Linked DNA regions of Homo sapiens. The protein of the gene in region 2 binds, or shares a complex with, the protein of the main gene of each other region. Links are inferred from orthologs where the notes say so. Each region holds a gene or a part of one and is shown on either strand. Other genes may lie near its edges.

Region 1 (7,026 bases), on a different chromosome or scaffold from region 2:
GAGTTTGAATTAGCTGATCTAAGGACCTTTCCAACTTTTAAGATCCTGTTTTATAGACAGTGTTCTATGATTTATAGACCTAGTGGACTTTCTCTGGGTTCTTTAGTGCTTTACAGCCTTAAATGTTTTCTAATTCAGTTGTCTTTACTAGGTGTTCTGTTTACTTCTTGTCAATGAGAAGTAAAACCTGAGGGAGAAAGATCTTGATTTTTGCTTCTGTTGGTAGATTAGAAAAAAAGCATGTAATACTTAAAAAAAAAAAGTTTCCAATAGTCAGTTTTACTCCCTAACGCCCATATCCCTAATAATAATAATACTGTTAACTTCCCTTTGGGAATTACTATATGCCAGGAATTTTACTACACTTAGAATCTAACGATATGTTTTACAAATTAGAGAAGCTAGTAAGTAAGCTAGTAAGTGGTGAATCTACGATTTGAACCAAGGTCTGTAGGACTTCAAAAGCTATTTCACTGTTCTTCTCTATGTACTAGATGCTTGGCCTATCCAACGCTCCCTTACATTTTTTGTTCTTTTTTTTCGGCATATGCCATTGTCTTAAGTAGTAAGCCTCTTGAGGATATAAGCCATGGTTTTTGCCTCTGAATCTCTAGTGCCTTTGATAATATCTTGGATGATACAATTGTGTGTTCAAAGTTAGTGCTATTGATGATAAAGGTTTTATTTTACTGAGATAGGATTTGAATATTTAAAATAGTCTTTTAGCAATTCAGCTTTATACTGGTTTTCTTGCTTTAGTTTAGCAAGAATTTTTTTTTTTTTTTGTTTTGTTTTGAGACAGGATCACACTCTGTCACCCATGTTGGAGTACAGTGGCATGATCAGGCTCACTGCATCCTCAACCTTGTGGGCTCAAGGGATCCTCCCATTTCAGCCTCCTGAGTAGCTGGGACTACAAGTGTGCATCGCCATGCCCAGCTAATTTTTAAAATTTTTTTGTAGAGACAGGGACTCACTCACTATGTTGTCAGATTCTTTTTTTTTTTTAAAGTAATAAAAAAGCCCTTAAGTAGGGACTTAATTTTAAAAATCCTAGTATATAAATGGTATAACAACAGTTCTAATGCTTTTTTTGTTAAATTACAAGAGTGATATAACTGTATTACAGAAAACTTGGAAATTAGAGGAAAACATCTCCCATAATTTCACAGTTTGTAGTGTTTATTTTCAGTTTCATTTTTTAAACAAGTACGCAGTACAAGTGCTAATAAACATATCATCTTAGTAGTCTGGTTTAACAATTATGACAGTAAATACAGGTTAGTTTGAAAATGACAACATGTTCTCAGAAGCAGAAAAGTGATATTGTTCTCAACATGACAGATATTTGAGTTCCTACAATGGGAAAGGCACATTAATGATGTTTTTCTTTATTGCCTATAATTATGGTTCGATATACTCAGGAAATCTCTTGAGAGAGATATCTAACCCTTCTCAAAGATGGCTTGAAATGTTCAGCACTTGGGAGAGGTTGTCATAGTTAAAATTAATTAGGAACAAGTTCATCCAATAGCAAGTCTCTCAGGAATAATCTAAGAGTGCATTCCTTTGTTTTCACTCTATTTGCAGACAGAATGCTAGTAACAGACTAACGTGTAATAGAAAAAGATTGAGTATCATTAGCAACGAATCATAGTTCAGAATCTCTGCAATCTCTAATAGTGTGATTTTAAAGGCCTAATCTAAGATATTTTACTTGTTCTTTAGGGAATTACAAAAAGCACTTTATATACTTGTTTGTGAGTTTGGGGCTTAATAAAATTGGGAGCAGAAAAGATAACTATTGGGTACTGGGCTTAATACCTATGACACAAGTCCACTGATGTAATAAACCTTCACATGTACCCTTGAACCTAAAATAAAAGTTTTTAAAAAAAAAATCAGTACTCTGGAAACCAAAACCAAGTAAATGGCCTGAGAGAGATCTGGTTAGTTGGAGAACTGGTAGAAATAATAAACGAAAAGTTACTCCAGGCAGAGTTCATTAGGCAAATTCATATGCTGGAGTTTCATTTTTAAAGCAGTTGAATCAACAAGGTATGCCTTCATTAATTATATTTATTAGGTGTTTTTAATAATCTGAGGAATCTTGTAAATTGAATGCTGTATTACAGTAAAGTGAACTTTTTTTATTTAGACAAATGATCTAACCCAGTTAAGCATGCGTAGAAGAAAGCCTGGAAGAAAAAAAACACTAAAATTTTATAGTAGCATGGTTGTAGTTTTTATCTACCTTGTTTTCAACAGTGAGAATGTATTCCTTCTGTAATCAACTGATTTAGCTTTTCTCTATGGCATTTTTGAGAATTTATTCATTTAAATTGAATACACAATAACTACGTGTAAAGTAAAGCTTTGTGTTCTAAGATTGTGTCTACACTTAGTTTTCATCCTAAACATTTAGAGAAATTGATTAGAGGAATGATAATAATTATATTAATTGATTTGGACAATTCAGTTAGAGGACTAATTTATAATTTTTTGTGCTGCTTTATAACTTAACAAAGCGTAACCTATGAACTAAGCTATTATTATCATCATTTCAAATTGGAGGATACTGAGGCTCAGAATTTGGGACTTAGGTTTTATAGTTAGTAAATTAAAAAACCAATATAAATTCATGGTTAAAAAAATTCATACAATGCTAGTGAAGTCTTCTTTCTGCTTTAGGCCCTCATTTGCTTTCCCAGAGGCAGCCATTCTTGCCAGTTTCTTGTGTGAATTTCCAGTAATAGTCTGTGTATATGCGAATAAATATATATGTATACTGTATATGTATATTCTTTTGTGTAAGCTGTTTATTGTTTCACAGTTTGTTGTTATATTATTTTTAGCTTAACTGATTTAGGAGATTGCTCTATAACATCACATATAGATCTCCCTTATTGTTTTCAAAACCTCAGGGTATTTCTATATGTGAACTTACTGTTATTTATTTTACTGGCCACCTAATGCTGGACATTTATTTTGTTTTCAATCTTTTGTTACAACTATGCTGCAGTGGATACTCTTTTACATGTTTTTGTGCACATGTGTGAGCATATGGATTAATTTCTAGTAGGTGTAATTTTTGGGCCAGAGGATACTTTTAATCTGCATAGATACTGCTAATTTGGGGTAGGCATAGTGGCTCAGGCCTATAATTCCAGTGCTTTGGGAGGCTGAGGCGGAAGGATTGATTGAAGCCAAGAGTTCAAGGCCTGGGTAACATAGTGAAATCCATCTGGGACAAAAAAAAAATTTTTTTTAATTAGCTGGGCATGGTGGTGTGTGCCCGTAGTCCTAGCAGGCTACAGGTGAGCTATGATTAGCAGGTTACAGTGAGCTATAATTGCACCACTGCACTCCAGCCTAGGTGACAGAGCTAAGACCCTGTCTCCAAAAAAAAAAAAAAAAAAAAAAGATATTGCTCATTTACATTCAGAAACACTGTAGCAGCACACATGTTTGAGAGTGTCATTTCCTCCACAGCTTGATCAACATGTATATTATTGTCAGTCCAGTAATCAGAAAGATTTCAAACAATTTCATTGTTTTAGTTTGTTATTTCTTTATGGGTAAGGCTGAACTTATTTTTTTTTCCTTTGAAACCATTTGTATTTCTTTTTTTATAAACTGCTTTAGTCTTTTACCTGTTCTCTTGATGGGCTGTTTGTCTTCTTTCTCACTGATTTGTAAGAACTCTTCTTATATTTAGGAAATTTGCCCTTCTTTGCAAAATCCTTTGCAAAATTTTTTTCTCTGAATTTTTTTTTGTTTTTGGCATTTTTTGATTATGTAGAAATATTTGTTTTATATGTTTAATTTGTCAGTCTTTTCTCTTAGAGCTTCTGCAAAATCTAGATTTTTAAACTTCAGGAGCAGAGGCAGACTAATATAACTGCAAGAGCACACCTGTTCTGCCCCTGAGTAGTTCTGTGATCTTGGGCAAATTACTTAACCTCTTAAGTGCACTCATTTGCATATTAGAAATAAACTACTGAGACTTCTTGGGTATTATTGAGACCTCTTAAGCATGTTGTGATTACAAAATGAACTGGTGACTTATTTTCTTTAGCTACTCCTGTAGTTTCCCAATTTGTTAAAAGCTGGCCTTGTACCCTGCCTCATATACTCTGCTTTCCTATCACATAAATGTGAACTTCTGAATATTTTGTGCAAAAGTAGGATAGAAATGAGGTAGAAGAAACTCATTTTTGTGATATAAATAAGGCTTTCAAATGAATCAGAGGTGCAATTAAAAAATAAAAGTTGGGCTCTTTTTAAAACTTGTTTTTATGTGGTAAAAATATACAAAGAAAAGTAAGCCTCACTTCCTCCCTCCTTTAAACTGGGGATTATTACAATGGGAATATAACAGTACCAGGAGTTTTTCATCTGAAATAATCAAACTGCTTATTCCTTACTAAATCTGCAATAAGAATACAAATTTGACCAAGAATGCTAGGATAAGAACATATTTTTTGGAGGAAGACGTTTATATTACAGTACTTTATAGTTTTTTAGATCATGGTTTCTCAGCCTTGGCACTTTGAGATTTTGGGCTGGAGAATTTCTTGTTGTGGGAGGCTGTTCTGTGCATTGTAGGGTGTTTTGCAGCATCCTTATCCATTAGACGTAACACCTTCACCAGTTGCAGCAATCAGAAATATCTCCAGACACTGACAAATATTTCCTAGAGGATTAAATTGCCTCTGGTTTAGAATCACTGGTTTATTTATTTATTTTTATTTTAAAGTTTTAGTACTTTTGAGAGAGAGTCTCGCTCTGTCGTCCAGGCTGGAGTGCAGTGGTGTGATCTTGGCTCACTGCAACCTCCACCCCTGGGTTCAAGCAATTCTCGTGCCTCAGCCTCCCGAGTAGCTGGGATTACAGGCGTGCATCACCACGCCTGGCTAATTTTTTTTGTATTTTTAGTACAGATGGATTTCACCATGTTTTCCAGGCTGGTCTCTATCTCCCGACCTCAAGTGATCCTCCTGCCTTGGCCTCCCAAAGTATTGAGATTATAGTGTGAGCCACTGCGCCCGGCCAAATCACTGGTTTAGATATATACTTATTTATTTATTATTATTTTTTGAGGCGGAGGTCTGGCTCTGTCGCTCAGGCTGGAGTGCAGTGGTGTGATCTCGGCTCACTGTAACCTCTGCCTCCCGAGTTCAAATGATTCTCCTGCCTCAGCCTCCCAAGTAGCTGGGATTATAGGCGCCCACCGCCACACCTGGCTAATTTTTGTGTTTTTAGTAGAGACGGGGTTTCACCATGTTGGCCAGGCTGGTCTCGAACTCCTGACCTCAGGTGATCCTCCCTCCTCAGCCTCCCAAATTGCTTGGGATTACAGGCGTGAGCCATCGTGCCCGGCCTAGATACATACTTTCTGTGGTCCATTAGGACATACAAGATATACTTTCTAGGGGTGAGGACAGGGGAAAGAGTTTATCTTCATATTTTTATTCTTAAGCCTGCCATGAGCCATGATTGACTCCTTGTGCATAAATATTGAGCTTAAAAAACTTAAATGAGAAGGCAACCTGAAATTGTGAACTTAATTTTATGTGTGATTTCTGTGCCTTTTTTAGTGTGATCTCCTCCCTCTTCCGGCTCCACTGTAGTTTGGAAACTTAGTGTGGTCTTCTTTTAGTTGTGGAACAGTTCTATCTAGTGGGCTAAGTATCAATACAGAGATCCTGGAAGGAAAACATTCTTATGCCACTGTTGAGAAGGAAGAGGACTGATGCTTCTAGAACACCTAATAAATACTAAATACTTTTAGATGATCTACATACATTATTTCACTTAATCTTCATAGCCTTTCTACAAGTAGGCATTAATCTTCTGTATTACTTGCTCACGGTTGTATTTTAAGTGGGAGAGTTGAGACTTGAACCCAGGCACATCTGTTCTCCAAGTACATTTGCTATGCTGCTTCCTATAGTCATTGATGATATTTCAGTCAAATTTTGGGATAAGAATGAACATTCATGTGATCTTACATTCCTCTATTGTTATGTAAAAGAAATTATCCAGTGGTGTGTGTGTGCGTGTGTTTGTGTGTATTGGGGAGGAGGTCAATAGTGGGATAATAACAATAATACTTACTGAGCACACTTACGTGTCATGTGCTATTTTCAATAATCTTTACAACCTGATGAACCTTTCAGTATTCTTTACAACTTGGTAATCCTTATATCCCTGTTTTACAAAAACAAAACAAAATAAAAAACTGGGACACAGAGGTGAAGTAATTTGTTCAAGGTCAAACTGCTGCTAAGTGGTAGAGCCAGAATTGTAACCCAGTAGTCTAAGCAACTCGGATATTGATTGAATGAGTCTGCATTTTTAAGGGCAAAATGGCTCTGACAGAGCTTATTGTGGTACCATTCCTTGGTTATAGCTGAACATATGTTGTAGGCTACTACATCTTCCTATGTGAAAATCAACTTATCATTGCATACACCACATCTCTAGAAAGTGATTGTTGCACGAAGTTATAGTGGAAAGTTTTTGTAGACATAGTAGAAGGTAGTTTTTCATTTTGCAACCTCCAGATTTATTGCTCATGAAAATCTAAGCTTGTCTAGGTTAGTGTACATCATACCAATATTTACTTTTAAGCTAATATTCTCTCAGACATGGTTATTTGGACTTGGAGTTTCTACAGTATTGTATTGCTAAAGATAAAATGTATCAGAGACTCCCTATAAAATAGACTTTTATTGACTAAAACCTGGAACCATTAGCTGTAATGATTTCTGATCCTCAGATGAACATTTTTGAGAACTAGCATAAAATAATGAGAGAGATCTTGGGCTCTGAAGTTAGAATGTCTTAGGTAAATTGATAGATTTTAGTTATATGAGCCATTAATTTTTATGAAATGTTGCACTTAATTAGAATTTTGATGGATCATTTATACTAAGGATTATTGATAACTTCATTCCATCTTTTGTTCTGTAGGTACAACATAGATATAGCATTATGCATATATAAAAAATATGAAATTAT
Region 2 (7,026 bases):
GAAACCCCGTCTCTACTAAAAATACAAAAATTAGCTGGGTGTGGTGGCACACGCCTGTAATCCCAGCTACTCAGGAGGTGGAGGCAGGAGAACTGAAACCAGGAGGCGGAGATTGCAGTGAGCCAAGATCGTACCACTGAACTACAGCCTGGCAACACTCACACTTTGACACTATACACCAGGGGCTCTTGGTGGAGAAACCCCCCACCCAGCTAAGAGCGTTCTGGAGATGTGGAGGGCTCTGACTATCACAAGGATATTGGCATTTCACAGGCAAAAAACAGAGACACAAGACACCCTAACTTGAAGATTCGTCTTGAGTAACTTTAGAATGTTCCACTGGACATCTAAGAAGGTAAAAAATTAGTTTGTAATTATCTGAGACTCCACCTGAATGCCATTTTACATTAATGCAAAGTTAAGGTGTCACACTGTACTTTCAAAAAAACTACATGTGTGGGTTTGTGATATATGAATTTTACTCAAAGATAAATGAGGCATCACAAAGTGTGTTATGCAAAAAAGGTGCAGGTCAGAATGGGGGCGGGGGGTCAGAATGGGGGCGGGTGAGAGTCAGAATGGGGATTGGGGGGCAGTCAGAAACGGGGCAGGCTCCCAGGCTCTGCTCTTGTGACGGAGCACCTCTGCAAGAGAAGACGACACGGGTCTCATGTGCTCCAAGGGTGGGAGGTCACAGAGGAGCTGGCAGAGAAGAGTCCCAAAAATATCCAAGGCGTGTCTCGATGAGACCATCTGAAGGCGGCGCTTTGCTCCCTACGCCGGGGACAGCGCCCGCCAACACTGTGGCCTCCACAGCCTGACAAAGCTGTGAGCTGCGTGGGAAGCCATCGGCCTTGGCCATGGCCATGCACCTGCAGCCCAAATGGAGACAGTTTCTCCTCTGCATCTCATCACAGATGTTACCCTGGTTCCTGCACTGATTCAAATACATCTATGGCTTTTATTTTATTTTATTTTATTTTTTTGAGACCGAGTCTCACTCTGTTACCCAGGCTGGAGTGCAGTGGTGCAATCTCAGCTCACTGCAACCTCCGCCTTCTGGGTTCAAGCAATTCTCCTGCCTCAGCTTCCCGAGCAGCTGGGATTACAGGCACACACCACCACACCTGGCTAATTTTTGTATTTTTAGAAGAGACGGGGTTTCACCATGTTGGCCAGGCTGGTCTCAAACTCCTGACCTCAAGTGATCCGCCCACCTCAGCCTCCCAAAGCGCTGGGATTACAGGTGTGAGCCACCATGCCCAGCCATCTATGGCTTTTAACTGCTTTCTAAAGTAGGAAAGCCCTTTGCCCTAGTAAAGGCATTTGTACCTGAAACGTTACCACAGATTGTAACAGCGAGGCCAGATGCAAGGCCCCAGGACAGTAGGGTCCTAACACCCACTTCAGGTTCTTCATCTTCCTTATCCTCTCAGGCCTGGGAGACCCTCCTCAGGGAGCAGGCCTGGCTCCTGGGCCACACCAGTTCACCTCCTCCCTCCAATAGCAGGACAACTTGAGGGGTGAAGGTTTTGCCTACAAGGGCCCCAGGCTCCTGCATGTGAAGCCAGGCAGCCTCTGATCCCCACACCCCTGTGCTCCCCAGCACACCCGGGGACACGCACACCACAGCCTCCCCCAAGGAGCTGTGTGCAGAAAGAGGATGCTCGGAAGAAGTAAAATGTCCTGGCCTCATCTATGATGTTAAATAAAAGACATTTTGGCCAATGTGACACCAAGATAAAGCCACTGTCTCTCGTGGGAAAGGCACATGTGCTGATGCCACCCTGAGGCCCCTTCACGGCCCATACAGAAGACCCTGAGCAAGAAAACTTCGCCAGGAGTGTCTCCCCATAGGGAGGGGCCTCTCACTGGGGCTCCCGTGAGCAATGGGAACAGATTGGAAAGCACAGGATAGCAATGACACCCACACACCATAGCTCTCGGTCAGAACAGAGGGGCCCACACACCACAGCTCTCGGTCAGGACGGAGGCGCCCACACACCACAGCTCTCAGTCAGGACGGAGGTGCCCACACACCACAGCTCTCAGCTCAGAACAGAGCTGCGTGCCTCGGCCACAGACACCTCCCTAAGGAACCCACCCGCCAGGCACCACTGACCATCAGGAGTGAAGCCACACTCAGAAAATCCACTGAATGAGCCCTGAAGGGGGAACTCCCTCCAAGAAGGCACCTTACAGAAATGCTGAACCTCACTGGACCCTCATCCTCCTTTTCAGAGGGCAGCACACTGCTCTCACTCCCAGGGTCCAGAAGCTTCCATCTGATCCCTAAGCCACACAGTCAAGGCCAGGCCCTCCAAAGTCCACCCTGAGCCTAGCCGGACAAACCTGGGTGTGATCAAAGGCCTGGGGTATGGGCACACCTCACTTCTCAGGACCCACATTAAAAAGAAACATCAAATAAGAACCAAAGAGAGACTGAAGACAATCCTACAGCCCCTTTCCATGCTCCCTCAGCGAGTTCCTCTTAACGTCAAAGCAGCTGGAGGGGAGCGAGAGCACCTGGTGCCTTCCCAGCTTCCAACAGGCAATCCCAGGTTTCCGTGGAAGACTTCACAGTGCCCTTGCTGAAAGCCGGCCTCCAGGAATCCCTGCACACCAGCCTCCCCTGGATCACGTCATCCTGCCCTCGCCTCCTCACCCAACTGGGGCCGCGTCCTCCTCTCTGCAGGGCGGAGCCGCTGCCGGCCCAGCACCCACGGGAAGGCCCCTGCTCCGGCAGCTCACAGACAAATCTCCACAAGCAAGTTTCTGCCTCCAGAAACCTATGTCAAGATGTCCAAAGGAGAGGGAGAGATGGATTAGAGGAGTGACAGAGGCCTGCTGCACTAGGCGCCTGGCTAGTGACGTCCCACGGGAGGAGACAGGGTCAAAAGCAGGTCACCAGCTCTACAGAGCACATGAGAAACATAAGCATGAAGGTGCTCAGGCGTGAAGGGAAGACGCCCACCTTGGGAGAAAGAGTCACATCTTTCATTCATTTCATTCACTCCAGGATGAGCTCACAGGCAATTCAAGCCTCCAGATGGCGGGCACAGCAGCGTGCCACAAACAACACAGAGAGAGGGCACGGGGGGACAGGGGCTGCACAGAGGACACTAGGTGGAGGGAGGGGAGAGGGAGGAAGAGGGGGAGGGAAGACTGCTCATTGAGATGTCAGGCTCAGCCTGGATACCAGCCCCATGGCAGGCCCTGCACTGTCGGCCAGAGGGGCAGGACACATGGTCAGCCGGGGCACATAAGCAGGTCCCCGCCAAGGAGTGCCAGGACTCCGACATGAGCACCCTCCCAACCAGCACACTGCCAGGGCAGGCACCACCACAGGAGCTCACCCCACAAAGCCCTGCCGATACTGGGTAGCAGCACTGGTTGCCACCACTGGACCTGCGTCCTGGAGAGACAGGTCCTCTAACTGGACAAACAGAAAGCCCGCCTGACCCCGACAGGAGCCCTCCCTGACAGTGCAGAGGGGAACAGCTGGCAAGCAGAGCCAAGCAAAAACGCAACTCTCAAAACGACACTTCTCACCTGACAAATACCACAGGACACATTCTGTTACAGGATTATTCTCATCGCATCACACATACAAGGAAAACCAGACCTAACCCAACTCACTACATAAAACCTCGAAGAGCAGGGCAGGACAGGTCCTCTCTAAATCAACAAAGCATGTGAGGACAGCTGCCTGGGTGAGGCAGTCCTGTAGGAGAGGGGACGGCCACTTCCCCTAAAACAAGGCACCACAGAGGATGTGTGAGCTGAGCTGGACAAGACGACGGTCTGAAGGAAGTGCCTTGCCCAGCAGGCACAGTGGCCCCCGGGAGAGGACAGCGGGGTGTGCAGCAGGGACAGTGGCCCCCGGGACAGGCCAGAGGGGCGTCCAGCAGGGACAGTGGCCCCCGGGACAAGCCAGCGGGGTGTGCAGCAGGGACAGTGGCCCCCAGGACAGGCCAGGGGGGCGTCCAGCAGGGACAGTGGCCCCCGGGACAGGCCAGCAGGGTGTGCAGCAGGGACAGTGGCCCCCGGGACAGGCCAGGGGGGCGTCCAGCAGGGACAGTGGCCCCCGGGACAGGCCAGCAGGGTGTGCAGCAGGGACAGTGGCCCCCGGGACAGGCCAGGGGGGCGTCCAGCAGGGACAGTGGCCCCCGGGACAGGACAACGGGGCGTCCAGCAGGGACAGTGGCCCCCGGGACAGGCCAGGGGGGCATCCAGCAGGGACAGTGGCCCCCGGGACAGGCCAGCAGGGTGTGCAGCAGGGACAGTGGCCCCCGGGACAGGACAACGGGGCGTCCAGCAGGGACAGTGGCCCCCGGGACAGGCCAGGGGGGCGTCCAGCAGGGACAGTGGCCCCCGGGACAGACAGCGGGGCGTCCAGCAGGGACAGTGGCCCCCGGGACAGGACAGCGTGGCGTCCAGCAGGGACAGTGGCCCCCAGGACAGGACAGCAGCGTGTCCAGCAGGGACAGTGGCCCCCAGGACAGGACAGCGGGGTGTCCAGAGCCACAGCCAGAGCCTGGGTTCTCAGTACATGCTCCTCCCTGACAGGCAAATGCTCTGCTGGTCCCAAGTCTTGGGGGTGAGGCCCTGACAGGTCTGGGTGCACAGTAGGTGAGGGACCCACCACGGCGCTGGTACTGGCTGGGGCAGGCTCAGGACCCCCGTTCACGTCCACACTCCTGTCCCGCTTGGTGTCCTCCAGGTCTGTCACCGTGCTGGGGCCCTTCTTCTTCTTGAGCTTTGCCAAGATGGAGGACTCCCGCTCCGGGAATGGGGGCATCTCCTCCAGCACGGTCGCCTTGGAAAGAACACAGGGTGGGACTGGTCAGAGCTCCTGGCCTCCAACCCTCAGCCAAGCCAGCCCGAAGGGCGGGGGCCTCCTACCAGAATGTCGGTGCTGGCCACGGTGCTGAGCCGCAGGTACTCCACAGCACGCTGCTGCAGCTCCACGTCTGCGTTCCTGAGCTGGCTGTCGCTGCGCAGCACGTCCTGGATGGTGGGCTTCACCTCCGGGAAGAGGTTCACGAACTTGATGTAGGTGGACAGGAGCAGCGCGCGGGTGGGGACGCTGCACAGGTGGAACTTGGAGTGCAGCAGGTGGAACTGGATCAGCGGGCTGGGGACGGGGAGGCACAACACAGGGACACCGTCGTCCCCTCGCAGGCTGCAGCACGCCCCCGCGGGGGGGGGACGGCGGCGAGACCCCCTGGCCTGCACCAGAGGCCGCTGGTCGGGACCCTCTTCCAGCTCCAGATCCCACCGCAAAGACGCCCCTTTCACTAAGTCAGCCATCAACCCCACGTCTCCATTTTCTACTAGAATCCCTGCTTTTTCTATCAACTGAAGGAAAACAAAAAGACGCCGATGGGGAGCAGAAGCGGCTCTGCGAGGCCTCACGGCAGGGCCAGCTGGTGCCTCGCCTCTTGCCACCGACCACCGAGAGGCCCGCCGGAGCGCACACAGCCCCGACTCGCAAAGGGCCTCTCACCTGGATCTCGGGTCTCCAGCTATCAAGTTTCCAAACTCCCCCAGGATGTAGCCGCCCACTTTGACCAGGTTCTCGTGGCACGCGGGAGCCTGAAGAGCCTGCGAAGCACAAACAATGAGCCGGGGTGGCAGCCAGGTGCCAGAGTTAAGGCGAGGCGGGCACGTCCTGGCGCGGTGCACCCTACACCAGCACCAGCCCCTCAGCTTCCTGGAGACCCCAGTCCAAGTGCCCATCCCTGCCTTCCTCAGCACCCTCAGTACCTGTGTCAGCAGCAAGGAACCCAAGGCTGCCACACGCTGACCTGCCCTGGAGGGAGCTGCAGCATCCACAACAGGCTCTGGCTGGGGAGGTTCTGCCAGCGTCCTCATGGCACACCCCTTGCCGGTGGCCTAACCCTCTCCGACGGACAGGGCAGGCCCCACCACGGCATGCCCCAGCATGCTCTCACACACACAGAGGCCGGCTTTCTCAGGTGGCCCCCAGAGAGCCAGAAGTTTGAGAGTTAGGGTGAGAAGAAACTGGGACTCAGCAAGGGGCACCAACAGTGGAGGAGCTAGAGCCTCAGGGAAGAGCTGAGGGGCAAGAGGGGTCAGCAACGGCCCTCGGCACCTCCACGCAGGCAGGCTGGAACCACTCACTGCTCACCTTCTGCAACTGCCCTCCACCCCATCCTTCCTGCCATCCTGCGGGCCATACCTCGAACACAGTCTTGGCCGCGTAGCCCTGCACGTCGTCCCGGTTGATGACGATCTGAATGACTCGGTACCACACCTCTTCACTCACGTAATCACCAGCAATTCGGATCAAGTTCAAGATGGTATCCACATACCAGGTGTAGTCCACCGCGTACTTCTCAGCCAGGATGGCGACCTTCAGCACCTGTGGGGGACAGGCTGCTGAGGGCCGGCACCTGCAGGCCATGGCAATCCCAAGACCAAACTGTCGTCCAAAGTCAAAGTGAGAGTTTCAGAAGCACCTCAATGTGTCTACAAAAGTTTGGGACATGGAGGAAGCTTGAACTCGATTCTCAAAAAAGCCCACGAGCCCAGAAAGTTTAAGATGCCCTGACTTAAGCAAAGAAAGCCAGGAAGAGGCGGAGACCAGTGCACAGAAGGCCACGGCCACAGCCAGGCCACCTCCCACCTGGGCCCTTCTCTCCCAAAGCCCCAGCACCTGGCGGCAGCACTCCTCTGACCTCATCACCCTAGGCTCCCGGTGGCAGCACTCCTCTGACCTCTGACTGCGCCACCCTGGGCTCCCGGCGGCCAGTGACTGCGCCACCCTGGGCTCCCGGCGGCCACTTCTCTGCTGGTTTCTTCCGGCTCTGGCCAGTCTTTCCTGCGAGCCTCACCTGGGGGTTCCCCTTCTTCCCCTCTCTGGCTCACTCTCACGGGTGCCCCCCGGAGGCACCTGCCCAGCCCACACCCACGTGGCAGCCACCCACATGGAGCTCTGCCAGGCTGTACAACACCAAACTCATCTCCCCAAAGTCACCTCGCCTGGAACCAAGCCCCCTT

The links. The genes of interacting proteins can lie anywhere in the genome.
Region 1: the proteins of AP2A2 (region 2) and EPS15 are in contact, whole or in part, in a crystal structure (PDB 1KYU), measured with the Mus musculus proteins. The link is inferred for Homo sapiens from one-to-one orthologs. Residues at the interface, in XP_006536218.1 of Mus musculus: Phe442, Phe443, Trp446, Lys447, Asp487, Pro488, Val494, Arg511; in NP_031969.1 of Mus musculus: Asp629, Pro630, Phe631, Lys632.

What each region holds. Positions count from the first base shown.
Region 1 is NC_000001.11:51,509,241-51,516,266, reverse strand, and holds part of EPS15 (epidermal growth factor receptor substrate 15), read left to right. Parts: intron 1-7,026. UniProt on the Homo sapiens protein: Involved in cell growth regulation. May be involved in the regulation of mitogenic signals and control of cell proliferation. Involved in the internalization of ligand-inducible receptors of the receptor tyrosine kinase (RTK) type, in particular EGFR.
Region 2 is NC_000011.10:991,865-998,890, reverse strand, and holds part of AP2A2 (AP-2 complex subunit alpha-2), read right to left. Parts: intron 6,389-7,026; coding exon 6,206-6,388; intron 5,608-6,205; coding exon 5,510-5,607; intron 5,138-5,509; coding exon 4,906-5,137; intron 4,820-4,905; coding exon 4,646-4,819; intron 2,790-4,645; coding exon of another isoform or gene 2,748-2,789; exon of another isoform or gene 2,698-2,747; intron 1-2,697. UniProt on the Homo sapiens protein: Component of the adaptor protein complex 2 (AP-2). Adaptor protein complexes function in protein transport via transport vesicles in different membrane traffic pathways.